4 separate regions of the Homo sapiens genome follow, and regions 2, 3 and 4 are each linked to region 1. The links come from fine-mapping of genetic effects on gene expression. A gene starts in region 1. Each other region holds a variant in brackets. All regions are shown on one strand. Distances are from middle to middle.

The links. PIP is the estimated chance that this variant, and not a neighbour inherited with it, causes the effect.
Region 2: its variant is fine-mapped to the expression of ZNF671 in whole blood (TOPMed, PIP above 0.99).
Region 3: its variant is fine-mapped to the expression of ZNF671 in whole blood (TOPMed, PIP above 0.99).
Region 4: its variant is fine-mapped to the expression of ZNF671 in whole blood (INTERVAL, PIP above 0.99).

What each region holds. Positions count from the first base shown.
Region 1 is chr19:57,722,796-57,730,902 of GRCh38, forward strand. It overlaps ZNF671 (zinc finger protein 671), which reads right to left and starts at 4,829. Exons shown (of 4, transcript NM_024833.3): 1 at 4,596-4,829; 2 at 419-545. The coding sequence starts at 4,733. RefSeq lists enhancers at 4,528-5,028, 4,546-4,985, 5,126-5,175 and a silencer at 4,982-5,207.
Region 2 is chr19:57,745,454-57,753,560 of GRCh38, forward strand. It overlaps ZNF776 (zinc finger protein 776), which reads left to right and starts at 1,362. Exons shown (of 3, transcript NM_173632.4): 1 at 1,362-1,638; 2 at 5,332-5,458; 3 at 7,838-8,107. The coding sequence starts at 1,606. RefSeq lists an enhancer at 1,374-1,423. The variant C/G (reference allele first, on the strand shown) is at 4,398.
Region 3 is chr19:57,847,369-57,855,475 of GRCh38, forward strand. ZNF587 (zinc finger protein 587) reads left to right here and starts at 2,491. Exons shown (of 3, transcript NM_032828.4): 1 at 2,491-2,703. The coding sequence starts at 2,671. It overlaps LOC124904782 (a long non-coding RNA gene), which reads right to left. Exons shown (of 2, transcript XR_007067358.1): 2 at 2,947-3,193. RefSeq lists enhancers at 2,089-2,198, 2,269-2,328, 2,499-2,738, 2,789-2,878, 2,933-4,132. The variant T/C (reference allele first, on the strand shown) is at 3,654.
Region 4 is chr19:57,693,488-57,701,592 of GRCh38, forward strand. It overlaps ZNF154 (zinc finger protein 154), which reads right to left. Exons shown (of 3, transcript NM_001085384.3): 3 at 2,788-8,105. Among named protein-coding and RNA genes, the nearest start is that of ZNF154, 12 kb to the right of the region's middle. The variant G/A (reference allele first, on the strand shown) is at 4,230.

The DNA.
Region 1 (8,107 bases):
GAGATGAGAGGATGGCTTGAGCCTGGGAGGTAGAGGTTGCAATGAGCTGAGATCATGCCACTGCACTCCAGCTTGGGCAACAGAGCCAGACCCTGACTCAAAAAAAAAAAGAAAAGAAAATGTCACCTGGAGAAAGGGACAGAACCTTGGGCACAGAGGCATCATAATTTTGGACAGAGTCACCAGTACAGAAAGCGAACAGACCTAGTGAGATCCACTGGGCAAACCACAAGTCTCATGACCCCAAACCCTTGGCTGCACGGCTTCAGGACTACTCAGCAAGTAGGGAGGACACTCCATACAGCTTAGCCCTGGCATCTTGAGCACCTACTCCAGGAAACTGGTGAAGGAAGCGGTGCTCATGATCCCACCATAGGAAGAACAGAGTGGTAAAGGCAGAAAAGCATGAGGACCTTACCCAGTGAGGCTAAAAGTGCAAAGTTCTCCAGCATCACATCATGGTACAAAAGTCTCTGAGCATCATCAAGAAGCTCCCATTCTTCCCGAGAGAAGTATACAAACACATCCTCAAAGACCACACAGCCCTGCAACAAAAGGGACAGGAAGGACCATAAAAAGTCTCTTGACCAATGATCCCCAGTCTACCTACCCACAACATCCTGCTAACTAACCTCCCAGGTTCCCAAGTCAGAGATACCAGGCACTAGTACCACTGATCCTCACTCTCTCCTGATCACCCCAGCAATCACTGTGTCAGCCCACCACAACAACAGACAGGCTGACAGATAAATGCCATTTACACTCTGAGCCAGCCAACTCCCCTGGGGTACCCAAGATCACAAATCCCAGGTATGAACCTAGGCTCATTTTTCTCAGTTAAGCCCCAAGTCACAGGACCGTCAGCTCACACTCCCTCCTCTCATACACATCACTCTGGACTATGTCTCCCTCACATCTCCAGCTTCCCCCCCACCCTACTGGCCCACCCCATCTCCCTGGACTCCCCAAATGTCACTCTACACATAGCATTAAGAGTGCTTGCCGAAGGCAGATCACGAGGTCAAGAGAGCGAGACTATCCTGGCCAACATGGTGAAACCCCGTCTCTACTAAAAAAAAAAAAAAAAAAAATACAAAAATTAGCTGGGCATGGTGGTGTGTGCCTGTAGTCCCAGCTACTTGGGAGGCTGAGGAAGGAGAACTGCTTGAACCTGGGAGGCAGAGGTTGCAGTGAGCTGAGATCATGCTACTACACTCCAGTCTGGCGACAGAGTGAGACTCCATCTCAAAAAAAAAAAAAAAAAGTGCTTGCCAACAATCAGTATCCCATCTTGCTCCAAACCATCAATGGCCCCATTGCCAAGGAAAGCCCTATTGTTGCTCTGAAAGCCTCCCAATCTGGCCCTGTTCCTTTTTTCAATCACAGGCACCTCAAACCACATGCAGATCTCAGGTATCCTCAACCCTCTTCCATTTCTTTGTTGCACATTGTACCACTGTTTGATATGGATTGGATGTGTATCCCCTACAAATCTCATGTTGAAATGCAACCCCTAGTGCTGGAGGCCCAGGGAAGCCAAAAGATTGGACACCCCTGATTTAAAGTGAGAGATGTGTAACTACTCCTTTAACTTGAACTCTTAGAGGCCACTGTAGGGTTATTAACTGACCTGATTTCAATATTGCTGTGTGTCAGGGAATAGGAACGCTTAAAGAGAGGGAGAAGGATGGGGATCAGCTGGTCAGTGAGGCAGTCAGAAGACACATAACAATTTTTTTTTTTTTTTTTAGACAGATTCTTGCACTGTTGCCCAGGCTGGAGTGCAGTGGCACGATCTTGGCTCACTGCAAGCTCCATCTCCCAGGTTCACACCATTCTCCTGCCTCAGCCTCCCGAGTAGCCGGGACTACAGGCGCCCACCACCATGCCCGGCTAATTTTTTGTATTTTCAGTAGAGACAAGGTTTCACCATGTTAGCCAGGATGGTCTTGATCTCCTGACCTCGTGATCCACCCGCCTCGGCCTCCCAAAGTGCTGGGATTACAGGTGTGAGCCACTGCGCCTGGCCGACTTTAGGCATTTGACACAGATCTCTAACTAACTTAATGCAGGCAGCAGGAGATAAATACCCATGCTCAGCTGCATCATGAAAACGGAAGAAACTGGAACACATTCAACACCCTCAACACATTCCAGCTACATCAAAAGAGTCTGGTTCCTACCTTCTGGCCTTAGGATAATGACAGAATGTAGTACATCCTAAGTTCCAGAGAGTTACCAAAAACAGAGACAGCATTCTGGACAAACACAAAGATTAGAGAAGCACCTTAAATCTTTGGCCAGATGGATTCGTGAGATCCTTCTACTACACTAGGCAAGACTGGGAGAAGTAGTGAACTTTTTTTTTTTTTTGAAATGGGGTCTCAGCCAAGCATGATGACTCACACCTGTAATCCCAGCACTTTGGGAGGCCGAGGCGGGTGGATCTCCTGAGGGCAGGAGTTCGAGACCAGCCTGGCCAACATCGTGAAACCCCGTCTCTACCAAAAATACAAACAAATTAGCTGGGCGTGGTGGCGGGTGCCTGTAATTCCAGCTACTCAGGAGGCAGACAAGAGAATTGCTTGAACCCAGAAGGCAGAGGTTGCGGTGAGCCGAGATTGTGCCACTGCACTCCAGCCTAGGAAACGTGGTGAAACCCCGTCTCTACTAAAAATGGAAAAATTAGCGGGGTGTGGTGGTGGGCACCTGTAATCCCAGCTACTCGGGAGGCTGAGGTAGGAGAACTGCTTGAACCCAGGAGACAGGTTGCAGTGAGCCGAGATCGCGCCACTGCACTCCAGCCTGGGTGACAAGAGCAAGACTCCATCTCAAAAAAACAAAACAAAACAAAACCTGGCCAAGGCATGGTGGCTCACTCTTGTAATCCCAGCACTTTGGGAGGCCGAAGGGAGTGGATCAACTGAGGTCACGAGTTTGAGACCAGCCTGGCCAACATGGTGAAACTCTATCTAATAAAATACAAAAATTAGCTGGGCATGGTGATGCATGCCTGTAATCCCAGCTACTGGGAAAACTGAGGCAGGAGAATCACTTGAATCTGGGAGGCAGAAGCTGCAGTGAGCCAAGATCGCACCATTGCACTCCAGCCTGGGTGACAGAGCGAGACTCGTCTCCAAAAAAAAAATAAATAAATAAAATAAAACCAAAGCCAAGTGCAGTGGCTCACAACTGTAATCCAAACACTTTGGAAGGCTGGGGCCGGTGGATCAGTTGAGGTCGGGAGTTCAAGACCACCTGGGCCAACACGGTGAACGTCCCCCCCACTCCCCCGCCCCCACCCCACCCCTCCCACCTCCCCACCCCACCCCACCCCTCCCACCTCCCCACCCCCGTCTCTACTATAAATACTAAAATTAGCCAGGGGTGGTTGTGGGCACCTGTAATCTCAACTACTTGGGAGGCTGAGGCGGGAGAATCTCTTGAACCCGGGAGGTAGAGGTTGCAATAAGCCACTGCATCCCACCCTGGGCGACAGAGTGAGACTTCGTCTCAAAAAAAATAAAAAAAATAAATAAACTAAAACTAAAAGAAAACACACAAAATGAGGGTGAGATAATCAGATAGTAGCAATAGCACACCACCCATCGTTGCCATCCCAGGCCAAACTCCTCATACCCTACAGCTCTCTCCTCCTGCAAACACTGAAAAGAACCCTTTCAAATGGCAGGACCCTTCTCTTCTGGGGGGAGTCTCAAGAATGCCCACTCCCTCTTCCCTGCCCTGCAGTCCCAGCCTTCTCATCTCTTACCCCAGAGATATGAAATAACATACTTAAGACTGCCCCACTTAAATCTGACCTCCTGGCCTTGACCTACTCCAGACCGCTCCCTTCACCCCAAAGATATTCTAAGCCCAGCCCCTTCCCCACAACTTCAGACCTTCCTCTCTAGTTGCCTAAGTGAGGAAGCCTCCACTCTGAGACATCTCAAAGTCACCATTCCAAAATCCAAACGTTCATGGAAAAACAACAAAAACACCTTGCTCTTTCATGCCTTACTTTCAGTCATAGCTGCATATGATGGAGCAGAAAATCCTGTTGGTTTCAAATTTAAAACCTACCCAGAATATGATCACTTCTACCCACTCACCTGCCATTACTCTTGGTACATCCACCACCAAAGCATTCCTGGAATCCACTGCAGTAGCCTCCTTACCGGTCTCCTCGTATCCATCCTCGCAGTCCCCACCCCAAACTAATGTTCTCCCCTGAGCAAATTTCGAGACACTTAAAATCCCAGCTAAGATCACGTCCTTCTATTCAAAACCCTCAGTTAATCTCAACGCCCTCAGAATGAAGCGACAACTTCTCAGCCTGCCATTCCAGTCACAGTTCCTCAAACTCTGCTCTGTGTTGATGAGAACCCTGTCTCCCAAATGTTTGGGGGTCAGCAGCACCCCCGAGCCTTTACCTGCGCCGTCCCCTCCGCCCGTAACTCTCCCACACCCACCCACACCGAGATAGGACCCCGCCCCAAGAGTGCGTCGCTGTCCTGGGACACAGGGGCTGCAGGCACTTTACGATTCGGAGTCGGAGAAAGGGTGACTGAGGGCCCGGAGGACGCAGCACCCACCCGCGCGGAGTCCGTTAGCTCCGCCATAGGACCGTGGGCGCGGACAGCTGCCGGGAGCGGCAGGCGTCTCGATCGGGGACGCAGGCACTTCCGTCCCTGCAGAGCATCAGACGCGTCTCGGGACACTGGGGACAACATCTCCTCCGCGCTTTCCCAACACCTCCACCTGCGGCCCACACAAGCGTTACAGAACCCCGGCCAGGGACAGCCTGACAGAAACAAAATGTCCGCTACAAGGAGGAGCCGGAAGTCCCGCCCACGCACCCCCCGCAGGCACTGAAACACCCCTCTCCTGGGCCCTCATTGGGTATGCAACGTATAGGTTTGTGGGTAGAGTGTGGTTCCCACTGAGCTATCCTTCAAGGCAGGGGATTCTCGGCCTGGGCTCTTGGGAAAACTCGAAGTAGGAGGGCCAAGTTGTTTGGGAAAAGTAACCCGAGTTTCAAAGGGCTGACAGGACTTCCGTCCTCTTTTTTTTTTTTTTTTTTTTTTTTGAGACAGAGTCTCGCTCTGTCTCCCAGGCTGCAGTGCAGTGGCGCGATCTCGGCTGACTGCAACCTCCGCCTCCCGGGTTCAAGCGATTCTCCTGCCTCAGCCTCCCAAGTAATTGGGACTACAGGGGCCCGCCACCACGCCAGGCTAATTTTAGTACTTTTAGCAGAGTACGGGATTTCACCATGTTGGCCAGGCTGGTCTCGAACTCCTGACTTTGTGATTTGCCTGCTTCGGCCTCCCAAAGTGCTGGGATTACAGGAGTGAGCCATGGTGCCCGGCTGACTTCTGTCCTCTTAAAAGGCCTGGACCTAGATTCCCTGGAGTGTAGTATGCACCGATCGCAGAAATGTTGAGACATTTCAGATGTTCCCCAAAGCTGCAAAACTAAATAGATACACCACACCACAATGTCTCTTTGCGTACACTCACAGCTAGAAGCTAATAACTATTACCTTGTTGCTTTTTAAATATGTGTGCACTCAAGCTTTACAGTAACTTTTGTGAGCTTCAGTTTGGTCAGAGACGGAAGAGAAAATATTCCAAACAAGGCCTTGGAGTGGAAGAAGGAAGAGGGATGATGTGGAGTCTCCCTGAAACCAGTGGACAGATTTCTTCAGAAAACTCTTCCTGCCTGGGTAATCAGTGATGTCTCCATCACAGCAAAACACAGTGCAATTACCATTTAACCTGTCATTGTCATTGTAAGTATGGTGTCTGTGTTAGGAGGTGAGATTATCCCCGGGGGAAAAATCCTGACAGCTATTAATAATGATTCCGTAGTTATTTGAAGATAATGAAAGAAATTGCTCTAAGGAAATATCTGTGATAGATGGACAAAGTTAAGATCTCAGTAAAGTTTGAGCCTGAATACTAAAGTATAAGTGAAAGAATGAAGTTAAGCATATGGTTGTGTTGTGATCTTGACCACACTTTGTCAACAAAATGTGACTCTTTTTTCCTGAAAATGCTGAGCAATTGTAAAGAAGATATCAGAATGGTAAAAATCAACAGTGAAGTTGTGCTGTCTTGATAATTCACTGTTAAAATACACATCCAAGGAACACATACGAGCTCTCAGTAGGTGTTTTTCAAATGTGTTAGTAGCATGAAAGACATCACTAATAAAATTTCCAAGATTCCTATACATACAGGACATGTCCTGCATATAATGATTTTTGTCCTGCATCACCTTTTGACTTTGTCACAATACCCTAAATAAATATTCTAAAGAAGGCAACAGTCTTAAAGAAAAGAATTTTCAACCCGGAATTTCATATCCAGCCAAACTAAGCTTCATAAGTGAAGGAGAAATAAAATACTTTACAGACAAGCAAATGCTGAGAGATTTTGTCACCACCAGGCCTGCCCTAAAAGAGCTCCTGAAGGAAGCACTAAACATGGAAAGGAACAACTGGTACCAGCCACTGCAAAAACATGCCAAATTGTAAAGACCATCAAGGCTAGGAAGAAACTGCATCAACTAATGAGCAAAATAACCAGCTAACATCATAATGACAGGATCAAATTCACACATAACAATACTAACCTTAAATGTAAATGGGCTCAATGCTCCAATTAAAAGGCACAGACTGGCAAATTGGATAAACAGTCAAGACCCATCTGTGTGCTGTATTCAGGAAACCCATCTCACATGCAGAGACACACATAGGCTCAAAATAAAGGGATGGAGGAAGATCTACCAAGCAAATGGAAAACAAAAAAAGGCAGGGGTTGCAATACTACTCTCGGATAAAACAGACTTTAAACCAACAAAGATCAAAAGAGACAAAGAAGGCCATTACATAATGGTAAAGGGATCAATTCAACAAGAAGAACTAACTATCCTAAATATATATGCACCCAATACGGGAGCACCCAGATTCATAAAGCGAGTCCTTAGTGACCTACAAAGAGACTTAAACTCCCACACAATAATAATGGGAGACTTTAACACCCCACTGTCAACATTAGACGGATCAACAAGACAGAAAGTTAACAAGGATATCGAGGAATTGAACTCAGCTCTGCACCAAGCGGACCTAATAGACATCTACAGAACTCTCCACCCCAAATCAACAGAATATACATTTTTTTTCAGCACCACACTACACCTATTCCAAAATTGACCACATAGTTGGAAGTAAAGCACTCCTCCGCAAATGTAAAAGAACAGAAATTATAACAAACTGTCTCTCAGACCACAGTGCAATCAAACTAGAACTCAGGATTAAGAAACTCATTCAAAACCACTTAACTACATGGAAACTGAACAACCTGCTCCTGAATGACTACTAGGTACATAACGAAATGAAGGCAGAAATAAAGATGTTCTTTGAAACCAACGATAACAAAGACACAACATACCACAATCCTGGGACACGTCCAAAGCAGTGTGTAGAGGGAAATTTATAGCACTAAATGCCCACCAGAGAAAGCAGGAAAGATCTAAAATTGACACCCTAACATCCAATTAAAAGAACTAGAGAAGCAAGAGCAAACACATTCAAAAGCTAGCAGAAGGCAAGAAATAACTAAGATCAGAGCAGAACTGAAGGAAATAGAGACACAAAAAACCCTTCAAAAAATCAATGAATCCAGGAGCTGGTTTTTTGAAAAGATCAACAAAATTGATAGACCACTAGCACGACTAATAAAGAAGAAAAGAGAGAAGAATCAAATAGATGCAATAAAAAAAGACAAAGGGGATAACAGCACCCATCCCACAGAAATACAAACTACCATCAGAGAATACTATAAACACCTCTACGCAAATAAACTAGAAAATCTAGAAGAAATGGACAAATTCCTCGACACATACACTCTCCCAAGACTAAACCAGGAAGAAGTTGAATCTCTGAATAGACCAGGCTCTGAAATTGAGGCAATAATTAATAGCTTACCAACCAAAAAAAGTCCAGGACCAGATGGATTCACAGCCGAATTCTACCAGAGGTACAAGGAGGAGCTGGTGCCATTCCTTCTGAAACTATTCCAATCAATAGAAAAAGAGGGAATCC
Region 2 (8,107 bases), 23 kb after region 1:
CTTTGGGAGGCCGAGACAGGTGGATCACCTGAGGTTGAGAGTTCGAGACCAGCCTGACCAACATGGAGAAACCCCGTCTCTACTAAAAATACAAAATTAGCCAGGTATGGTGGCTCATGCCTGTAATCCCATCCATAACATTAATTTATTAGGCAAAACACTCCTTGCCATGGAAACAGAAATAAAGAATAGTCACAAAAAAAAAAAAAGAAAAGAAATAAATAAAGTCTGTTTTATCTAATACAAAAAAAAAAAAATAGCCACTTCCCAGCAATAACATGAACTCCTGGATTTAAGACACAACCAATATCAACAGGTGGAGAGCATCTTCTGCATACGTGCCCCACCTTTGAAAACTGCAGCCATTTATCACTACCAAAATAGCATTTCTTTCATTGGTCTTCCTGTAAGATTGATAAATCTTAGATAAATTAATCCAGAATTAATTGAATATAAGTTGGAATCTCAAGCGAGGGATACTAAGTGGATAAAAGTGTTGCTCAATGTACTGGACACTATGATTGATTTTATAGGCAGGAGAGTTGTCTTCTGTGGGAATCACAGACAGAGATTCAGCATGTATTCCTGCTTTAGGGAACACAACATTTCTCCTCTATCTTCCTTGTCTTGTCCTATCTGGATTAGTTCTCTCTTGTCCCTGACAGACTGAGAAACTGACTCTAATGCCTCAGAGTGCATTCATGTGAATTTATAACACAATAATGTTTATCAGCCTCTGCTGCCAGTACCGGGATTTTGCGACTGAAAGACTGTTCAAAACGTTATGATAATTTGGATTTTTAGTCTTTGGGGGCATCCTAAATAATAAGTTTAGCATCGGAGAGCTCGAGTTCCCCAAAATCTAAAATAATATTTTTTCAAATACTTGAGTGATCAGTTACAGACACTAATCTCCAAAAATCTCAATACGGGTTCTAAGGCTAGGTGAGACTATCCTCTACCCTAGAAGGACATGCACTTTAAGGACAGGCCGCTGAGATGGAGCTGGGCCTTTCCTGCAAGTAAGTGAACGTGATGGTAGGGTATACCTGACAGCATAGTTTGACAGGGGATATAGACTTTCAAGGAGAAAATAGACATGAAATAGATACATGCAGAAGTATAGTCAAATTGAGGGAAGATGACACTTAGGCCAGAGTAGTGTTTATTCACCACTCTGTGCAATCAAGCGCCTCTGAGAAGGCCTTCTTTACCGCCTTGGAACTGTCTTGGAACCTGAGGAAACTACATAACCCAGAAATCTCTGCGTCGAATGACAGCGCGTCAGAGCCAATGAGGGCTCAAAATAAAGGCGTTTCCGCGGAAACAGTATAAAGGTGGGACTTCCGGCGTCCTCTACTAGTGGCCATTTTGATTGGTGTTGGGTGTATTTTCCAGTGAGAGACCGCGGAGTGTTGGGTCGTGTAGAAGTGACTGAACCCAGAAGGTGGAGACGAGACGTTGTCCCGACTGCACAGAGGCTGCTCTGCAGCTCCTTAAAGGCGCTAGGCGTGACCCGCACCAAGGCCGGGATCGGGACCACCGTGCCCGGGTACCTGCACTGCTCGCCCCCTCCTTTCGACCCCGCTTTCCCCACCCAGTCGGATGGCGGCGGCCGCGCTGAGGCCCCCGGCTCAGGTAATTGTGGCGTCTTCCGTGCCCTCAGGTCACCTCATCTTTACCTAAGTCCAAAAGCAGAGAGGAAGCGGCGCCTGCTCAAGGTTTTACACCCTGAACCCGGCGTCGGGACACTGAGGCGCTCTCTATGGGCCCCCGTTTTTGACACCCGCGGGATGCGCTCAGGAGAGCTACAGGCACAGGGAGCGGTGCAGGCAAAGGCCTGGAGATGAACTGAGCCGAGAGGATCGTAACCTAGGGTCCACAGGCACCTGTCGGGAGCAAAGTGTGAGGCAGAGCTCCTCCTGGAAGAGCAGGCTGAGGACCGTGTATTCACCCTGAGAACGCTGGAAGCCATGGACAGCTTCCAACAAAGGAAGGAAAAGATCAATGTCCAGGCTTTAAAGGTTTCCCAAAGTCCAGTCGAAAAAGAACACAGGGGATGACTTTTGGGCCCTGGGAGGTTGAATTCTTGTTCAACCTCTACAGATCAGATAGGTGCTAAGAGATGACATTTTGTACTGAGGCGCTCAGTTCAGACAACCAACTCGCGTTTACCTAGTTACAGGGCCAAGAAAGAGTTCAGGGAGGCCTGAGCTTATCAAATCTCATCAGGGATACATTCTTGTAGCTTGTGCCTCTCCTCTCAGGAACTCCTGGCTGCAGAAGCACTTGCAGAACCTCCGCAGGGAAGCGGAGGGTGTTATTCCCTCACTGGCCCTAACTCCTATCCACATGCTCTTTAGATTGGGATGTCCTGGGATTCTTAGGTACCTTTTTTTTTTTTTTTTTAAGTTTTTTGATATGGGAACCCTGGAGGAACCTTAAACCCAGGATCCAAAGTCTGTGACACAGGATATATGGAGGTATTCCCATTTCTGTCAACCAGTATAAACATACTTGGAAGGTTAACCCAGGAGTTAGTACCAGGATGTGAAATGCTTAGAGGTGAAACTGACCAGAGGGAGGAGGTGATGTTGCCACAGTTTCATCTGGCTGTAGTCTCCTCTGGCTGTACAGTGGAGAACAGACTGTGGGGTTGAGAGAGGAGGAAATAAGATGAGAGTTGAGGCTTTTGCCGTAATCCAAGTGAGGGTTAACAGACTAAGATTCATGGCTAAGGAGATGTGGCTGGATTCAAAGTTGATATTTTGTTACAGCATCTAGGTTTCCTAATACACAAAGTAAGGGCATGAAGAGAGCAATCAGGATCCCGAGGTTTTTGGTCTTAGTAGCTGTAGCTATGGAAGCTGCATCAGCTGAGATGAGCATGTTGGTAATAAACATAATTAGAATATTATGCAAATATCAGGATGACTGTTATGGCCATATGAAGAGTCAGAGACGAATAAGTGTAGGCATCAAATGGCTATGGACATGCAGGTTGGGGTATCTGGAAAGGGATTGACACTGGAGACATCTAATATATGGTAGCTAATGTGTATGCTATGGTGAGTGAGCCATGGGTCACATTAAGGAGAACACACTTCAGATTCTGGTGGTAAATCTTTTAGGGGACCAGAAAGCAGTGGTTGAATGATGAGGACTGCATCTGTTGCTTGGGTCCCTGGGTAATGTTACTGGGCTTCCTAAACACTGGAGAGGTAGGTAAGTGACCATGATGGTAGGGTATACCTGTCAGCATAATTTGACAGGGGACATAGACTTTCAAGGAGAGAATAGACATGAAATAGATATATGCAGAAGTGTAGTCAAATTGAGGGAAGATGACACTTAGGCCAGAGTGGTACTTATTCACCACTCTGTGCAATCAAGATTTGAGATGACTTTGGTAGTGTGTGGGGGGTTTCATTACACGTGCTGAATATGCTCAGGGAGAAATATGGTCATCTGTGACAGTAGGTCTTGGGCCTTAAATGGATTAAAAACAGGACTTTTTTTTTTTTTGAGACGGTGTCTCACTCTGTCGCCCAGGCTGGTGTACTGGTGTATAGTGGCGCAATCTTGGCTCATTACAACCTCCACCTCCCAGGTTCAAGTGATTCTCCTGCCTCAGCCTCCCGGTAGCTGAGAATACAGTTGCGTGCCACCACGCCCCACTAATTTTTTTTTGTATTTTTAGTAGAGATGTGATTTCACCATATTGGCCAGGCTGGTCTCGAACTCCTGACCTCATGATCCACCTGCCTCAGCCTCCCAAAGTGCTAGGATTACAGGTGTGAACCACCATGCCCATCCAGGACTGCTCTTTAAATGGCAATGGTATTAGGTGAATGGAAGTTGGTCCGTGTTGCTGAAGGGTAAGCCATTGTAGCACAGAAGTGGAATAAGACCATGGATATCTGAAGTTACATGTGGTTTTGCATGGATGTGGAGTAATGCAAGGAGGCATTCATAGAATTATTAGGGACTACCACTGCTAATGGGAACCATGGTCATTTTGTGTTATTATTGGATCCTGTTTGAATATGTGAAGCATATTGGATGCTGTCAGCCATATTGTGGTATAAAGCCAAAAATGGAGGCCCAATATGATGTGTCACCTTGACATCTAGTGATATTGGTATGACCTCAAATGACCTGAGAACCAATTCCCTTCCCACTAGGCTCTTTTAGATAATAATCAGCATGGCCTAATAATCCTTTTATTAGGGAGACCAGGCAGAATTCCTGGTTATTATACTTTGTAGTGAGTTTCAATTTTATCCTTACCCACAGTGTTATTCAAACAAGCCAGTTGCATCCTCCTAAGGGATTCGGGGGTCATCACACCCTCTTCATTTTAAAAGCTTGCATATCATAGTTTCTGGTTATGCACT[C/G]TTATCCATAGTGCAACCCCTATGTGGTCCTTCATGATGAGGGATGTCCTCTTCTAGACTTTGAGTGTATTTGATTTTTAAACATATTTATAGCACCTGTCTAGTGTTTGATGTCATGTGTTTGGTCATTAATATAACTGTAAGGTGAAAATCTCACCCTTACTGGTAGAAGGAAGAAGAGGGTATAAACATACTTTAACTTGTGGGGAGGCAGAGGCCAATGTGGGAGGCAGTTTAGTGGGGGTGGCCATGGGCATGTGTCTGTGCAGTCTAAAGAATGATGTGTATTTTGGCCTAGCACAGTGGCTCATGCCTGTAATCCCAGCACATTGGGAGGCTGAGGTGGGTGAATCACTTGAGCTCAGGATTTCGAGACTAACCTGGGCAACATAGTGAAACCTTCTCTCTACCAAAAATACAAAAAAAAAAAAAAATTAGCCGGCACGGTGGCATGCACCTGTATCCCATCTACTCGGGAGGCTAAGGCCAGAGAATTACTCGAGCCCAGTAGACAGAGGTTGCAGAGAGCTGAGATTATGTCATTGCACTCCAGCCTGGGCAACAGGAGTGAAACCCTATCTCAAAAAAAAAAAAAGCAAAAAAAAGGAATGATGTGTATTTAGAGAAGGAGTATGTCTGATAGACTGAGGATGCTGCATTGGGATTTACATGACTTCATCTCTACCAGGGGCATTGGCTATCAGGAAGTTATGGACCGCTTTATATCAGCACCAAAACATAGAAATCTATTGTTTCACCCACTTCTTGTGGCTGATGGCTGTACACCATGACCAGTGAGCCCATGAGAAGATAGTGACACCAGTGGGCCTAGTTTCTCCTTGTAGTTTAGGACCTTGGGAGGAGGAAGGGCAAGGGTGGATAAGTGGATGAGCATATGGAGTGTTTGTGGTTTCATCTGTCATCATCACGGCAGGGCACTGTGACCTTTGAAGATGTGGCTGTGAACTTTTCCCAGGAGGAATGGAGTCTCCTTAGTGAGGCTCAGAGATGCCTTTATCATGACGTGATGCTGGAGAACCTGACACTTATATCTTCTCTAGGTAAGGCACTCACACTCTTCTCTATGACCTCAGCTATTGTCTGTCTGTCCCCATCTTTTTTCCCCATGGCAAGACTGTTTTCCTCACTTCAGGAGCCTGGGCACAGGTTCCTCTGTTAGTTCCCTGGGTAGGTTCTATGTGGTATGTAGGACTGAGGTGTGTGCACTGCCCTCTCTCTCCTTGAGCAGCCCCAACACCTGCTTTGCTGCAAGCTCCCAGAGAAGGAGCTTTACAGGCACCATAATGCATCCCACCTTGCTTGCCCTCTGGCTGTTGAGTAATTTTTCTAGATCAGAGACTGGTATGCACAGGTTCTACTTCCTTGCTCTAGGTGACATTTATTCATGACTGCCTGTGCTAGGAATTCCTCCCATCACTGATGTTCTCAATACTTACATGCACCATAGGTTGTTCTTGCAAGACCCTCCTTATAAATTATCTTGTTTGTTTTGTTTTGTTCTGTTTTGTTTTCAAAGTCTTAACTCTGTCACCCAGGCTGGAGTGCAGTGCTGCAGTCATAGCTCACTGTAGCCTCAATCTCCCAGGCTCAAGCAATCCTCCTTCCTCAGCCTCTAGAGTAACTCGGACTAGAGGCTTCTGCCATCACATCCCACTAATTTTTATTTTTATTTTTAATAGAGATGAGGTCTGGCTGTATTGCCCAGGCTGGTCTCTGACTCCCAACCTCACGTGATCCTCCCACCTCATCCTCCCAAAGTGCTGGGATTACAAGCATGAGCCAGTGTGCCCTGAGTATTTTTTGCTTTTTTGTTTTTTTTTTTTTCAGACAGGGTTTCACTGTCATCCAGGCTGCAGTCTACTGATGCAATCATGGTTCACTTCATTCTCAGCCTTCTGGGCTCAAGTAATCCTCCCACCTGACTCCTAAGTAGCTGGGACTACAGGAGCATGCCACCCTGCCCAACTAATTTTTGTTCATTTGTATTTTTGGTTTTGTTTTTTTTTTTTTTTTTTTTTTGAGACGGAGTCTTGCTCTGCCACCAGGCTGGAGTGCAGTGGCCCAATCTCGGCTCACTGCAACCTCCGCTTCCCAGGTTCACACCATTCTCCTGCCTCAGCCTCCCGAGTAGCTGGGACCACAGGCACATGCTGCCACACCTGGCTAATTTTTTTGTATTTTTAGTAGAGACGGGGTTTCACCGTGTTAGCCAGGATGGTCTCGATCTCCTGACCTTGTGATCCACCCGCCTCGGGCTCCCGGAGCTGGGATTACAGGCGTGAGCCACCGTGCCCGGCCTCATTTGTTTGTTTTGTAGAGATGGTGTCTCATTATGTTACCCAGGTTGGTCTTGAACTCCTAGGGTCAAGTAGTCCTTCCAGTTTGGCCTCCCACAGTGCTGGGATTATAGGTGTGAGCCACTGCACCTGGCCAAAAATTATCTTTGTAGTATTTAGTTTTCTTTCCTATGGGCTATCATGTGCTGATTTTTTCTGAACTGTTGGTTGGCTATTCTTCTCTCTTGTCTTTCTCTTATTCTTTATGTCATCCATGTCTCATGTAAATTCCATGTATATCTTTGCAGTGGGACTGAGAGTTCTCAGTGATCCAGAAGTTGCAGCTAAACCCAGGCTCAGCATGATGGGCCCAGAGGGAGGCCACCTCTGAGGAGTAACACCCTGGAGGAAGACATAACATTAGGGATTTAGGAAAGTCATGCTAGAAGCTCTCTGATTTCACAAGTATTTACCTGGCAACATGACGAGCCATATGCTGTTTCTGTCTTCCCCATTCTTGAGAGTTTCAGACTTCACCGTTCTATACCCTGTCACTTCTCCTCTGATGCCAGCCCAGGACTAATCTTCACATCTCTGGATCCCACCTGGACCCATTTTTCTCACATTTCCATCTGCAGTGGACTCCAATACTGGCATATCAATTTTGTATTAGGAAGTGTGTACACATTGCTAAGCCATACCTGACCAACAGCTGCTTTGTTGTACTCGTATTTTCTTGTGACACACAAACAAGTGTATCTTTGTTGTACTCGTATTTTCCTGTGACACACAAACAAGTGTATCTAACAGAGGTATTACTCCATGGAAATAATTGCAGAAACAGAATGTTGCCTTTAGGTTGAAGATAAGTCTTCTTCATATTACTGGGTTAGAATGATTACAGAATGTAGGGGGCCACATGATGTGAAGGAGCCAACAATACATGCACTACAGGAAGCAGAGGCAATTCCTTCCTGTGCAAACATCTAAAGGACCTTCATAAAGCATGTGGGTGCTATATAAAAGGATATGTCTAGGCCCAAGTAAATATAAGTACAACAAAGCAGCTGTTGATCAGGTATGGCTTAGTAATACTTCCCTTCGGAAGTACCTTGCATTTTACCAGCATTTTATTTCTTTTAGGTTGTTGGTATGGAGCAAAAGACGAGACACCTTCTAAGCAGACCCTTTCTATACAACAGGAGTCCCCACTCAGGACACATTGGACAGGTGTATGTACCAAGAAGGTCCACCTCTGGGGAATGTGTGGCCCTCTCCTGGGAGATATCTTACACCAGGGAACACAACACAATCAGAAATTGAATGGGTTTGGGGCATATGAAAAAAAATTGGATGACGATGCAAACCATCATCAAGACCAGAAGCAGCACATTGGAGAGAAATCGTACAGAA
Region 3 (8,107 bases), 120 kb after region 1:
GGATCTGGTCAAAACAGGATGCACTAAAGAAACCAGCTGAAAGCAGTAAAACTAAGATGGCAAGAATATGAACTCTAGTTACCCTCATTGCCTCACTGCTCATTATATGCTCATTATAATGTATTAGCATGCTAAAAGACACTCCCACCAGCACCATGGCCGTTTACAAATGCTATGGCAATGCCCAGAAGCTACCTCATGTAGTTTAAAAGAGAAGGAACCCCTGGTTCTGGGAACTCCCCACTCTTTTTCTAGAAAATTCATGAATAACCCACCTCTTATTTAGCACATAATTAAGGAGTAGCTATAAATATAGCTAGCCAACAATCCACGGGTGCTACTTTGCCTGTGGAGTAGCCCTGCTCTGTCTGTGGAGCAGCCATTTTCCTGTTCTCTTGCTCTCATAAACTTGCTTTGCCTTCACTTTACACTCTTGGCTTGCTCTTGAATTATTTCCTTTATGAAGCCAGGAACCCTCCTGGATTGAGCCCCAATTTTGGGATTTGCTAGCATCACTAGAGCAATTTTCTGTGGGAACCAGTGGCCAACTGCCAGCTTCACTACCTGCTTCAGGGTGTACCAACATCCGTCTATTTCCCTGTCATTAGATCTTTATTATTATTTTATTTTTTTGAGACGGAGTCTAGCTCTGTCGCCAGGCTGGAGTGCAGTCATGCGATCTCAGCTCATTGCAACCTCTGCCTCCAGAGTTCAGGCGATTCTCCTGCCTCAGCCTCCCGAGTAGCTGGGACTACAGGTGTCTGCCACCATGCCCAGCAATTTTTTTAACATGGGTTTTGCTGTGTTAGCCAGGATGGTCTTGATCTCCTGACTTCATGATCTGTCCACCTCGGCCTCCCAAAGTGCTGGGATTACAGGCGTGAGCAACCGTGCCCGGCTAATTTTTTTATTTTTATTAGAGATGGGGTTTCACCATATTGGTCAGGCTGGTCTCGAACTCCTGACCTCATGATCCACCTGACTCAGCCTCCCAAAGTGTTGGGATTATAGGCATGAGCCACTGCACCCAGCAATTTATTTATTTTTTATTTTTTATTTTTTTTGAGACAGAGTCTCACTCCTGTTGCCCAGGCTGGAGTGCAATGGCATGATCTCGACTCATCGCAACCTCCACCTCCAGGGTTCAAGTAATTCTCCTACCTCAGCCTCCCGAGTAGCTGGAATTGGAGGCATGCAGCACCATGCCTGGAAAATTTTGTACTTTCAGTAGAGACACGGTTTCTCCATGTTGGCCAGGCTGGTCTCGAACTCCCGACCTCAGGTGATCCACCTGCCTTGGCCTCCCAAAGTGCTGGGATTACAGGTGTGAGCCACCATGTCTGGCCTTTATTTTTATTTTTTGTGGGTATATAGTAGTGTATATATTTGTAGATTACATTAGATATTTTGATGTAGCCATGCCATATGTGATAATCACATAGGGTAAATGGGGTCTCAGTCACCTCAACATTTATCCTCTGTATTATAAACAGTCCAGTTATACTCTTTTAGTTATTTTTAAATATATAATTAAATTATTTTGACTATAGCCACCCTGTTATGGTAGCAAATATTAGGTCTTATTCATTTTTGCTCACTGTTTTTTGTACCCATCCTGTCATCATGTCTTATGGAGAATTTTCTTTTGTTCCCAACAAAACAATGAAACTCGCAAAACTGACTGTAATGATTCAGTCTACGTGAATTTAAAGAGCAATCAATACTTAATGTTCTCAGCTCTGAGTGCACACATTGTAAGTCTGAATGATGCCAATGATATGGCCACTTAGATAAGTAAAGTTTGGGAGCATCTCAAATAGTATTTTTATTCTCTGGGTGCAGGATGAGCTTCCTAGAGTCTGATGTGATACCTATTTGATGCTTTTACAAAGAATCAATAATCTTCCTCCTTTGAGGTGTGAGCAGGGCTTTCCAGCAGCCCTCAGAATGTAACATGGTCTGCATTCGGTTTGCTCTTGGAGGATACCACCATTGTTGGCTGAGAGCTCTGGGAAGTACTTTACCCAGAAGGCGCTAGTTGCAAGGCCCAGGATGAGGGATTTCTGGGCATGCTTGTCAGGCCAGGGAGTACTGGGTTGGGACTGAGAAGGCACAAGAGGAGTAGTCATCTCTGCTCCCAAGTGGCAGGTCTGAGGCTCATAGGCACTGGCTGGGGTGATGCCTGCTCCACCCACAGTTGATGGCAGCAGCCACACTGAGGGACCTAGCTCAGGTAAATGCTGTGTATTACAGGCTTCACCCCAGCTAGAGTAATACAGGTAGAGGAACCAATAGGTACAAAGGCTTGGAGGTGCATCTGAGCCATGAACATTTCAGAACCTGGTAACCATGTTGTGTCATGGAAAGTGGGGAACTACATTACCCAGAAAGCTCTGCTTTAAACGACAGCCGGTCAGAGCCAGTGAGCACTCGGAAAGAAGGCATTTCCACGTGTGCACGTAACGTAAGGCCGAGACTTCCGGGGTCTCTAGTAGCGGCTGTGTATCGGCGATGCGGGTGTTTCCCCAGTTTGTGGCCCCTGAGTGCTGGGTGGGACCGCGGTGACTGAACCTAGAAGGTGGAGAGGAATCGTCCTCGGTGCCCAGAGGCGGCTCTGCAGCCCCGTGACGGCGACCACTGCTCCCGGGCCGTGCTTCCCCAAGTAGTCCGATGGCAGCGGCTGTGCCGAGGCGCCCAACTCAGGTAATTGTGGTGCCTTCTGTGCCCTCAGGTCACCCCATCGTCACCCAGGTCCTAAACCAGCGAGGGAGCGGCTCCTGCTCGTGGGTCTGTAGCCGGTACCCGGCGTAGGAACACTGAGGCGCTCACAGGAGGCCTCTCCTTGTAACCGTCCAGTGGGTTCACGTTGCCAGCTGCCTAGACAGAGCCGATTTATGAAGACTGGGGAATTGCGATGGAGAAATAGTAATTCACGCAGAGCCGTCCTGCTGTTCGGGAGACAGGAGTTTTATTATTCAAATCAGTCTCCCTGAGCATTCTGGGATCAGAGTTTTCAAAATTTGGCGGGTAGGGGCTTGGGAAGTGGGGAGTGCTGATCAGTCTGGTTGGAGATGGATTCATAGGGGGTTAAAGTGAGTTTTTCATGCTGTTTTCTGTTCTGGGTGGGATGGCAGAACTGATTGACCCAGATTACCGGTCTGTGTGTTGTCCGCTGATCCATCCAGTGCAGGATCTGCAAAATGCCCCAAGCACTGATCTTAGATATTGGGGAAACCAGCCCCACACCACCCAGCAGATACCCCGAGTCCTGCGGAGACAAAGGAGTTAGAAAGAGACAGAATACGCATTTAAAAGGCGGGTCCAGGTGGCCAGAGCATTGGAGGCTTCCTGGCGGCCCAGAGCTCTTGGGCTCCACCCAGTTTATTGGTTTACAAGCTCTTTGTTCTTATGGCTGATTGGAGGGGGAGGAAGCGATCAGGAAAAGGATTAATCAGTAAAGGAGAACTCGTGAGTCATTCCATAAGATGTAAAGCACTGGCCGTTTCTGTGAATTTCCTTGAACAAAGGCGTGTGTCTAAACTACTTAAGATCTTTAACTTAACTGAAACGGGTGGCTGCGGGTTTCAGGAGGAGCCAAGATGTTTGATTATGCTCCACTGCTTCAAGGGAGTGTGATCTCCCTGAGCAACCCA[T/C]GGAATGCTGCTGAAGAGTTATGCTCTCGGGGCATAAAGACATGAAGGCAATAAGGAGACTTTTCTCCTCAGAGGCCGCCCATGGCTTCCCATGGGTGTCTCACACAGGGGAGACCAACTCAACTAGCACCCCAGAAACTCACATTAGGTTTTACAATAGTAAGGTTATCTTCAGGAGCAACTTGGGGAGGTTCAGACTCTTGGAGCCAGAAGCTGCATGACCCCTAAACCGTAATTTCTATTCTTGTAGCTAATTTGTTAGTCCTGCAAAGACAGGCTGGTCCCCAGGCAAGAAAGGGGTCTTTTCAGGAAAGGGCTATTATCAATTTTGTTTCAGAGTGAAACCATGAACTGAATTCTTTTCCAAAGTTAATTCAGCCTATGCCCAGGAATGAAAAAAGACGGCTGAAAGGTTGGAAGCAAGATGGAGTCGGTTAGGTCTGATTTCTTTCACTGTCATAATTTCGTCAGTTATAATTTTGCAAAGTCGGTTTCACCTGTTTCTGACACCAGTGGGATGCAGTGGGGAGAGTGACAGGCACAGGTAGGGGTGCAGGCAATGGCCTGCAGATGGACAGAGCTGGAAGGATGGAACCTGGGGTTCACAGGCATCTGTCAGGAACAACGTGTGAGATGGAGCTCTTCCTGGTAGAGCAAGCAGGCCAGGGGCTGTGCATTCATCATGAGGATTCTAGAAGCCATGGAGAGTTTTGAAGAAAGGAGGGACATGATCCAAATCCAGGCTTTTAAGAAGTTTCCCAAAGGCCAATCAAAGGAAGAACATCATAGAGAGAGAGGATGAGGACTTTGGGGCCTTGGGAGGTTGAATCCGTTTTGTAGATCACATAGATGGTAGAGATGACATTTTGCACTGAGAAAAGCAGGTCAGACAACCAGCCTTAGGGTTACCTGGTTCCAGGGACAAGAAAGGGTTCAGGGAGTCCTGAGCTTATCAAATCCTGTGACATGTTTGTAATGTCTGCCTTTCCCCTCAGGCACTCCTGGCTGCAGAAGCACTTAGGGAACCCACACAGGGAAGTGGAGGGTGTTCCATTCCCTCATTGGTCCTGACGCCATCTACAGGTTCTCTAGCTTGTGGTGTCCTGGGACTCTTAAGTGCCATTTTTTTCAGTCCTTTGATCCGAGGACCCTGGAGAATCTCTGAAGCCAGGATACCAAGTCCATGACAGGTTATATGGAGGTATTCCCATTTCTGTCAACCAATGTAAACACCCTTGTAAGATTAACCCAGGATTTGCTACCAGGTTGTGAAATGCTTAGAGATAAAACGGATCAAAGTCAGGAGGTGATATTACCACAGTTCTACCTGGCTACAGGCTTCATCTGGCTGGACCTTGTTGCATAGACTGTGGGTTGAGGGAAGAGGAAGAAAGGTCAGAGATAAGGCTCCTGCCATAATCCAGGTGAGGGTTAATGGATCAGATAAGTGGTAAATCACATGGGTCTGGATTCAGGATTCACTTTTTGTAAAGAGACAGCTAGGTTTTCTTTTTTTTTTCTTAACGTGGAATTTCAGTCTTGTTGCCCAGGCTGGAGTGCAATGGCGCAATCTTGGGCTCACTGGAGCCTCTGCCTCCCAGGTTCAAGCAATTCTCCTGCCTCAGCATTCAAGGTAGCTGGCATTACAGGCACCCACCATCATGCCCAGCTAATTTTTGTATTTTTAGTAGAGACGAGGTTTTACCATGTTGGCCAGGCTGGTCTCGAACTCCTGACCTCAAGTGATCGTCACATCTCGGCCTCCCAAAGTGCTGGGATTATAGGCATGGACCAATGCGCCCAGCCGAGACAGCTAGGCTTTTTTTTTTTTTTTTTTTTTTTTTTTTTTGAGACGGAGTTTCACTCTCTTGTCCAGCCTGGAGTCTAGTGGCACAATCTCAGCCCACTGCAACCTTCACCTCCTGGGCTCAAGTGATTCTCCTGCCTCAGCCTCCTGAGTAGCTGGGATTACAGGCATGTACCACCACACTCGGCTAATTTTTCTATTTTTAGTAAAGTCGGGGTTTCACCATGTTGGCCAGGCTAGTCTCAAACTCCTGACCTCAGGAGATTCGCTGGCCTCTGCCTCCCCAAGTGCTGGGATTATAGGCACGAGCCACCATGCCTTGCAGACAGCTAGATTTTCTAATGTGGATGATAGGAGCATGAAAGAGGAATCGGGCATGAGCCCAAGGTTTTTGATCTTAGCAGCTGTAACCATGCACACTGCTTCAGCTGAGATGACGTTGGTATTGACATAATATTCACTGTGGATATCCAGAGGGTTGTTTTGGCCATATGAAGAATCAGAGACCAATAAGTGGTGGCATCAAATCGATAACTAGACATACTGGATGGGGTATCTGGGAGGGTGTTGATACTGGAGACATCCAATATATGAAAGCTAATGAGTGAACTATGATTAGTTATGGGTCCATTTAGGAGGACATGCTTCAGATTATGGTGGTAAATCTTTTCAGGGGGCAGAAAGGTGTGATTACAGGCTGAGGACTGGATCTCTTACTTACGTCCTCAATTGATGTTATTGGGCTTCCTAAACACCTGAGAGGGTGTGAGTGACCATCATAACAGGACATTTAATACAGTAGAGTTTGGAAGGGGACATAGACATCCAAAGAGATAATAGAGAAGAGATAGATGCATGCAGAAGCACAGGAGTAATTCAGGGAAGATGACACTTAGGCCTGAGTTGGTGCCAAAGTTGTAACTTTTTTGTTTTTTTTTTTTTTTCAGATGGAGTTTCGCTCTTGTTGCCCAAGCTGGAGTGCAATGGTGCCATCTCGGCTCACTGCAACCTCCACCTCCTGGGTTCAAGCAATTCTCCTGCCTCAGCCTCCCAAGTAGCTAGTATTACAGGCACCTGCCACCACAGCAGGCTAATTTTTGTATTTTCGGTAGAGACAGGGTTTCACCATGCTGACCAGGCTAGTCTTGAACTCCTGACCGGGTGATCTGCCTGCCTCGGCCTCAAAGTGCTGGAATTGCAGGCGTGAGCCACTGTGCCTGGCCAGTTGTAACTATTTATCACTGTCTGGACTCATAAACATTTTGAGATGACTTTGGGAGTGCCTGGGGAGTTTCATTCAGCCTGGTGCATATGGGCAGTGAAAAATATGCTCATCTGTGATAGTAGATGTGGTTTGGTTCACAAATCCAGGGGCTGGGCTTTAAACGGCATTAGGTGGACAGAGGAGGGTTGCTACAGCTGAGGTCTCAGCTGGTGCAGCACAAAAGTGAAATAGGGCCATGGCTATCTGAAGCCATATGTGGTTCTGTGTGGCTATGGAGTCATTCCAGGAGACGTTCACAGGATGATTTGGGATTACCACTGCTATTGTAAACCATGGAAATTCTGTGTTAATATTGGATGCTATTTGTATTTGTCAAGCATAGTCTGGATGCTTATCCACATTTTGGTATAAGGCCAGAATTGAAGGCCCAATATGATGTGTCACTTTGACATCTTGTGAAAGTGGGACAACCTTAAAAGGTGTGAGTACAAATCTCATTCCCACTCTGCTCTCTTGAATAATGTATCCTAGCCTAACAGCCCGTTTTATCAAGGTGATAAGGCAGGGTTCCAGGTTGTTATATTTTGTGGTGGGTTTCAATTCCATCCCTACCAGCAGAGTTATGGAAACAAACCATTGCATATTCCCAAGGGAATCATGGGCCGTTATACCCTCTTCATCTTGTGAAATAATTTTATTTGTAGGCGCTGGGTGTGGTGGCTCACCCCTATAATCTCCTCACTTTCAGAGGCCAAGGCTGGTGGATCACTTGAGACCAGAAATTCAAGACCAGCCTGGCCAACATGGTGAAACCCCGTCTCTACTAAAAAAAAAAAATACAGGCCAGGCATGGTGGCTCAAGCCTGGAATCCCAGCACTTTGGGATGCTGAGGTGGGTGGATCAGGAAGTATGGAGATCGAGACCATCCTGGCTAACACAGTGAAACCCCGTCTCTACTAAAAAAAAAAAAATACAAAAAATTAGCCAGCTGTGGTGGTGGGCACCTGTAGTCCCAGCTACTCGGGAGGCTGAGGCAGGAGAATGGCCTGAACCTGGGAGGCAGAGCTTGCACTGAGCTGAGATCATGCTACTGCCCTCCAGCCTGGGGGACACAGCAAGACTCCGTCTCAAAAAAAAAAAATTAGCCGAGTGTAGTGGTACATGGCTGTAATCCCAGCTACTTGGGAGGCTGAGGCACAAGAATCACTTGAACCTGGGAGGCGGAGGCTGCAGTGAGCCATGATTGTGTTCCTGCACTCCAGCCTGGGTGGCAGAGCTAGACTATGTCTCAAAAAAATCCCCCAAAAATAAACTTTTACTTCTGGGGATGCCAGAGAGGGGCTGAAGGTTGGGGAAACTCTGGTGGGGGTGGCCATGGGCATGTGTCTGTACAGTATAAAGAATGATATATATTTAATGAG
Region 4 (8,105 bases), 29 kb before region 1:
CTCCGTCTCAAAAAAAAAAAAAATCTGATGTGTGGGCCACAAACACAATTGCACTATCTTTGTGGGGCAATTGTGATGAGGCAGGCACAACCTGATGTGATACTACTACTCCCTACACACATCACTGCATACTAGATGATGTACTGATGAGGGAACTGGTTCATACCCCAGCACAACCTGGAAATACACGTGTGAGCAGGTTTGACCTAAGCAGGAGAATAGGATGTTTATGGGCTTTATAGGAGGGCTCAGCCAGATTCAGCCAGTTTCAGAAGTAATTGGTCAAGTACAGGTGGGAGAAGGAACACTCTAGGGGATTAGTACTCATTGTCTGTCATTGATTTTACACAGGGCTGGGGAGGAGCAGTTGGGACTAAGGACACCTGCTACAGGGGTTGGGAGGCAAAAGCCATGGGTACAGAGACGCGCGATGGTCACGCTGGACATTCTCAGTTCTTCATCTTCTCTCCCAATGTCTGCAGTAGTGACTGATAACTGAGTGACAGTTCAGTATGGTGTGGAGGAAGCATCCTATGGTGGTGTTTAGATGGAAGACCGAAAGGACCCCAGGAATGAATCATTGCATGGGGTTGTGAGAGAGCGATGTGTTTGGAGTGACACCAGGGACCCTGTTGGAGGTGTTCAGGCAGTGGCAATGCTGACCATGGGAAGCAAGTTTGTGGAGAAGGACTTGAGGCCCCAGGTGGCAGTGTCCCAGTGTGGTTACTCATGTTCTGGGCTTAGCAGACTTGGCAGAGAGGAATCTGTCCAGAGTCTCCTGCATTTCCAGTCAGAGGAGTAAAGGGACCAAGGCAAGCCAACCCAGTTCAGCGTAGACCTCAGCTGCTTGTGTGAGAAACACACTCACCCATCCAAACCCAAAGAATGGACTAAAAGACACGAAGAACAGCGAAAGTGAGACTTTCAGTAACAGTCTTGCAAGATCAGGGGACTGGTGTAGGCAGGCATATCTAGGGTAGTCACAACAGGTAATTTATCTCCTTGCTTGCAAGTCCCTCCTCCAAGATACTCATTGGTCCAGTACTATGAGGTTACAGTCTTCCCAGATGTCGTCTAAGTTTCATTATCCCCCTTATAACGTTAAACCCCGGTCCCCTTCCCTGCTTAAGTTTTGATTTCCAATAATGAAACATTCTTCCCTTTCATGGCCTGACCCCTCCTCTACATTCTGTGTACCTATTGTGACCTTCTAGATGCATGAGCTGTGTGGTTTGTTACATTTGCAGGCTGGCTGCCAGTACTTAGATTTATCATGCCTTGAAAATGGGCTATTTAAAATATTTTCCCACCCTTGGCAGCTGTGGTCGTGTATGGATGTTGCTTGCCCTCTCTGAACTGCAGATACATTAAGAGACAGGAATGATCATTCCTCTCTACTCTTTTTGGGGGGAAGAAGGAATAAGTAAGGAGGTAATCCTTAGGAAGTGGGTCAATATTAGCTCCACATGAAAACAGTAGTCTTGGCCAGGCGCGGTGACTCACGCCTGTAATCCCAGCACTTTGGGAGGCCGAGGTGGGTAGATCACCTGAGGTTGGGAGTTCAAGACCAGCCTGACCAACATGGTGAAACCCCATCTCTACTAAAACTACAAAAATTAGCTGGGCGTGGTGGTGCACGCCTGTAATCTCAGCTACTCTGGAGGCTGAGGCAGGAGAATTGCTTAAACCCGGGAGGCGGAGGTTGCAGTGAGCCGAAATTGTGCCATTGCACTCCAGCCTGGGTGACAGAGGGAGACTCCATCTCAAAAAAAAAAAAGAAAAAGAAAAAGAAAGAAAAGAAAGTAGTAGTCTTGATTGTCAGCATCCAGGGAAATGTGCAAACCATTCTCGTCTCAGCCTCCTGAGCAGTTGGCACTACAGGCGAACACCACGATGCCTGGCTAATTTTTGTATTTTTAGTTGAGACAGGGTTTCGCCATGTTGGCCAGGCTGGTCTGAAACTTCAGGCCTCAAGTGATCTACCCTCCTTGGCCTCCCAAAGTGCTGAGATTACAGATGTGAGCCACTGTGCCCAGCCGGAATTCCTTTTTTTTTTTTTTTTTTCCTTTTGGAGACGGAGTTTCTTGTTGCCCAGGCTGGAGTGCAGTGGCACTATCTCAGCTCACTGCAACCTCCACCTCCCAGGTTCAAGCAATTCTCCTGCCTCAGCCTCCTGAGTAGCTGGGATCACAGGCATGTGCCACCACACCTGACTAATTTTGTATTTTAGTAGAGATGGGGTTTCTCCATGTTGTTCAGGCTGGTCTCAAAACTCCTGACCTCAGGTGATCCGCCTGCCTTGGCTTCCCAAAGTGCTGGGATTACAGGCGTTAGCCACCGAGCCCAGCCTCTTTTTCCCTTCGTTTTATTCTAATCAACCACTGAGGTTCAAAGAGGGTCTCTAGTCACTAACCCAGCCCCGCCCCAGCCCACTCAGCCCCTGTCCCTGGTGTGAGCCACCGCGCCGCCCAGCTGGAATTCTTCAGAGTAGAAAAAAGGGAAGGCTTTAGGTGTGCTAATTGGAGTCTGTGGGTCTGAGGAAGCCGAAGGCAGGCTAACTACAAGTAGGGCCTACTCTGTCATTGGTTAGGGACACATACTTGATTTCATCCATTTGTTCTTAAATTGGAAAGGGAGACAAACATTAGAGAAGCTGTTAGTCAAGTCCTTGACAGGGGTTGTTGGGGACTTTCTCAAGGTCACTTCCTTGGGAAGGAGTCCTTCAGAAATTCACACTGAGATCTCTGGACTCTGCAGCCAGTGCTTCTTCCAAAAATTCCATCCAAGTAGAAGCTGTGGGGTCAGGGGGTTCTAAGAAGCCCCATTTCTCTTTCTCTTGTACCTTAAGACCTGCCTGGATCAGGTAAATGATAAGGCATCAACTCACTAGGTGCTGGGGATAGTGCTCGGCCCTGCTTACCACCTGCCTACCACACCTTTTGCCAGGATCCCAGAGAGTACTGTGAGCACTCCTATTCCACAAACATAAAACTGAGGTACCAAGAGGCTGCAAAACCAGCAGAGTCCTGATGCTGGGCAGTGGCAGAGGAGGGATTAAACCCAGGCAGCAGAGGGAGCAGAGGGCCTGGGGCAGCCAGGCACCGGAAGTGCTGCAAGCACCAAGACCCAGGGTGGTAACTTGCAGGGGGAGGCCAGAGCATGAAGGCAGAGGGAGGTTTTGGGTGCAGCCTCCAAGTAGGGAATGGACAGTTTCAGTGTTGAGGCAGAGTGGCAAAGACAAGAGACCCACAGCACCCAGGAAATCCCTCAGCTATAAATACAGTCCCTCAGCACTTTTCACTCCCCTTCCCAAGGATACTATCATCACCCTCTCCTCACCTTGGAAAGAAATCAGGGCTCCAACTAGAGCTGCCTTGCTGGAAGCTCGCACTGTCCTGTCCCGATGTATCATCCAGCAGCCCCAAGGCAGCTCCCCTCATTATCCTCTGTCATAAAGATATGATGTTTGCTTTTCCTCTAGGTAAAGCCAGTAAGGTAATAGAGCATCACCTGTTAGGATGAACTATGTGTGACAAATGGTGCTGTCAAATTCGTATTTGAGGACTTGTTGTTGTTTATCTTGAAAACGTGTGTAATGGGCTACATCTGCTAGGCCATATGAAGGAGTGAGGCTTTTTTCTTACCTTGCAATTTCTTAGTGGATTGTCTGTGATGTGCATCACATTCTGGTTTAATGCTTAATAAAAGCGTTTTCTGTCTCTACCTTCGTGGAGAGGATTTCTGGGTTGGGAGAAGGTTTTGTATTTATTTCACTGTTGCCATCACACACCTGTCTGCTGGGACAAAATCTCAATCACCGATTTCATCAACATCTAGTGTACAAGTTAAACAATGTTAGAGATTCAATAAGCCACATCTAGAATACAGCAAATTCTAATTAAAAAATGACTCAGCAACTTCAAGAAATAAGAAAACAAAGGTAAATGGAACCTGTAGGTTACAGACTTATGAGATACAACTACTGAAAGCTATTAAATATACATTTGGATCCTGAATAAAAATGATCTTCCTTAAGAAACACATTGTTTTAGACAACTGAGAAAACAGAAGCGATAAAATATTTACATTTTAAAATATATTTGTGTGATTTTTTGGGGGGTTATAAAAGAGCCTTTACATTTTAAAATTGCATTCTGAAGAGGCTATGCATTAAATAATATGATATCCGGGAGTATAAGTAAAATAACGCACTAGTACACATGAGGACC[G/A]ATGAAACATAAATGACTATGAAATGATAAATGGTGAAGGAAAAAAAAATAGTGAAGGAAGACTGGAGAAAGGTTCATCTGGCTTCATAACAGTCTTTTCCATCTTTTTTTGTAATTGAACACAGCTGTAACAGGAGACAAAATATGTCATTGTACCAGTAATTTTACACAATGAAAATTAATTTTATATGTTGAGAATGAACTAAAAAGACAGAAGGAAACTGCGTTCCAGGGTGTAAGCATGTATGAAAATATCAAAATATGCATTTTAAATATAAGCACTTTAAGTTCCATTATACCTCAAACTACTTTAAAAAACTACTCAAAATATCCATAACAAATGAATGAATGAATAAACGAATACTGGTATATCCACAGAACATCATACTTCTCAGCAATACAAAAAAAAGAAACTACTCATAGAGGTATAATGATGAATCTCAAAATAAATACGTGACTATACCCAGGGATTAAAAAAGAGTAAATACATTATGGTTTCAATCATATAAAATTCTAGCAAATGAAAACTAATGTATTATAATGGAAAGTAAATCAATAGTTGCCTATAGGCAGATAATTATTAAAGGACAATGAGGTAACTTGTGGAATGACACGTTCATTGTCATGATTGTGAAGAAACAACTTCTTCCTAATCATTTCACTACATTTTATTTTCTACATTCTTGAGGTTATTCGTGGCCACTGTATCAGTATGGTAGAAACAGAATATATTAGGATGCTATCAGCAACTCTTCCCAATTCTACATTCAGTAACATGTTGGCAGTTTCAAAATTGGCATGGTGGGAGCAATTACAGGTTAATATGAATATCAAAGCTGATCAAATTATATAGTTTAAATATGTACCATTTATTCTTATTAAAATTATTATCAGGTTAGTGCAAAAGTAATTGCCGTTTTTGCATGTTGGATTTTGCCATTTTATATTGGAAAACATTCTTAAATAAATGTGGTTATACATCATTTTAATAGGCATTTCTCGCTTTATGTTTTTTTGCTGACTTACTACTTGCTGTTTATGTTTATTTTAGACTATGGAAATGTTAGACAAAACTCAAATTTCAGCGATTTTTTTGAGATAGAGTCTTGCTCTGTTGCCCAGGCTGGAGTGCAGTGACATGATCTTGGCTCACTGCAACCTCCACCTCCCGGGGTTCAAACAATTCTCGTGCCTCAGGCTCCCCAGTAGCTGGGATTACAGGTGCATGCCACTATGCCCAGCTAATTTTTGTATTTTTAGTAGAGACGGGGTTTCACCATGTTGGCCAGGCTGGTCTCGAACTCGTGACCTGTGATCCACCCACCTCGGCCTCCCAAAGTGCTGGGATTACAGGTGTAAGCCACCGCATCTGGCCTCTTTTTTTTGAGACGGAGTCTTGTTTTGTCTGTCGTCCAGGCTGGAGTGCAGTGGCGTGATCTTGGCTCACTGTGACTTCTGCCTCCCGGGTTCAAGTGATTCTCCTGCCTCAGCCTCCCAAGTAGCTGGGACTACAGGCACATGCCACCACGCCCGGCTAATTTTTGTATTTTTAGTAGAGATGAGGTTTCAATATGTTGGTCAGGCTGGTCTCTAACTCCTGACCTTGTGATCCACCTACTTCAGCCTCCCAAAGTGCTGGGATTACAGGCGTGAGCCACCGCACCCGGCTGAGATTTTCTTACTTGAGTTCCCAATGGGTCGTAAAGCAGCAGAGACAACTCACGATATAAACACATTTGGCCCAGGAACTGCTAACGAATGTACAGTGCAGTGGTGGTTCAAGAAGTTTTGCAAAGGAGACAAGAGCCTTGAAGAGAAGTAGTGGCCAGCCACTGGAAGTTGACAATGACCAATTGAGAGCAATATTAGAAGCTGATCCTCTTACAACTACATGAGAAGTTGCCTAAGAACTCAATGTCAACCATTCCACGGCTGTTCAGCATTTGAAGGAAATTGGAATGGTGAAAAAGCTTGGCTGGGCGCAGTGGCTCATGCCTGTAAATCCCAGCACTTTGGGAGGCCAAGGTGGGTGGATCACATGAAGTCAGGAGTTCAAGACCAGCCTGGCCAACATGGTGAAACCCCATGTCTACTAAAAATGCAAAACTCAGATGGGCGTGGTGGCGGGTGCCTGTAATCCCAGCTACCTGGGAGGCTGAGGCAGAAGAATCGCTTGAACCTGGGAGGCGGAGGTTGCAATGAGCTGAGATAGTGCCATTGCCCTCCAGACTGGGCAACAGAGCAAGACTCTGACTCAAAAAAAAATAAAAATAAAAATAAATCATGGTTCAAAACCACAGTTACTTTTGCACCAACCTAACAAAATATGGTTCAAAATAAAAGTCTGAATTTCCTATTGTTTTTGGAAAATCAGGTTTGACAACCCTATGTTGATTCCACCATCTCTCTCCTCATGTCCTGGGAGAGGATTTTGCCTCAGTGATCACAAATACAAGTGAACAGTGAAGGCCATTTCCACCTGACTCAACAGAAATGTTGGCTGGATCACAAAGGCTGTATCAATGGCCTAGACCTCCCTTCTCTATCCTTGTTTTCCTGCCTGCATAGCAATGACCTTGAGGTGAAAATCCCAGAGGCTACAGGATTCCATAAAATTTCTGACAATGACCTCAGCTACACAAGATACACAATTCTGTAGGTCCTGAGGATTTCTGTACCTGCTCATCCTTAAGAGCCATAATAACGAACATCATGGAAACCTCTGTAAAAGGGGCACATTCTATTTATTGCAGTGTTATTGCAGTTTTCCACTCTCTATCAATCCAGTACTTCTATAACAATTATAATTCCTACTATAATCTTACCACCTGTGGTGCTACCCTGTGGAATTCAGGATATCAAGGCATACAGGACCTGGGGAACAGATTTCCCCCACTGGCACTGAACACGATGCAGTATTCCTTGTGAACAAGAGAACAATTTCATGTTGCTTTCAGAAACATCAAAGGATGTCAAGTAACTGCTGCCTCCTCAGGCTGACCTCTATGGCATCCAGGATATAAATTAGGACAATACCCTGTAGTTTTTTCTCAGAGGCCTTGAATAGCAATGAAAACTAGGCTCAAACTAGAGAGAGAGCTATATTCTGCCATCCTACTGTCCCTGTCCCTGTCCCTGTTGAGCTACACAATGTTTGGGATCTCCAAAAAAAGTTATTCACCCCTTCATGTTAGCAGAACCCAACTGTTTTCAAACCAACCCATACATATAGAACCCCCAAGATTAATAAGGCCTTTGTTATTGTACAAACCAAGGCAATAAGAGGCAGTTGGTTCCCACAGTTGGTGATTTGAAGGCTGGCAAACTCTATCAAGAGTCATGTGAGACCAACAATATCCTGAAATATGTAGTCCCTCTTTTCAGGTCACCAGCAGAGTCCTCTGGGCCAAACTGGGTCAGGTCCATGGCCTAACTCATCAGAAAGGAAAAAAAAAAAACGGAATAAATGCTTAGGCTATTTACAAATTCCTCCCATGAACAGAACACCAAGGTTCACTTACCTGAATACACTGGGATGGGTGAGTGGTGCACACTGGTGGTCACCTGCCAGGCAGTAGAGGTAAAATGGCTTCCACTATAGTATCAGCAGAGACATAAATCTGACATGGGCCCTGGGCAGGGCAAAAGGTGCAATGCAGTTCACACATACCTGGAATTTATGCAGATGTTCAGATATAGGATGTTCAATTCAGGCTGATGCCACCCTCATAAGGGATCTCCTTCAGAGCTGTTATATCAACTGGACATCCCTACATATCAAAAGTGTCTTTCCCTTGTGAACTGTGTGGCACTCAATGAGATATGGCCTTCAGCTGAAGCTTTCTGACATTCACTGTGTACTCAAGGACTTTCTCC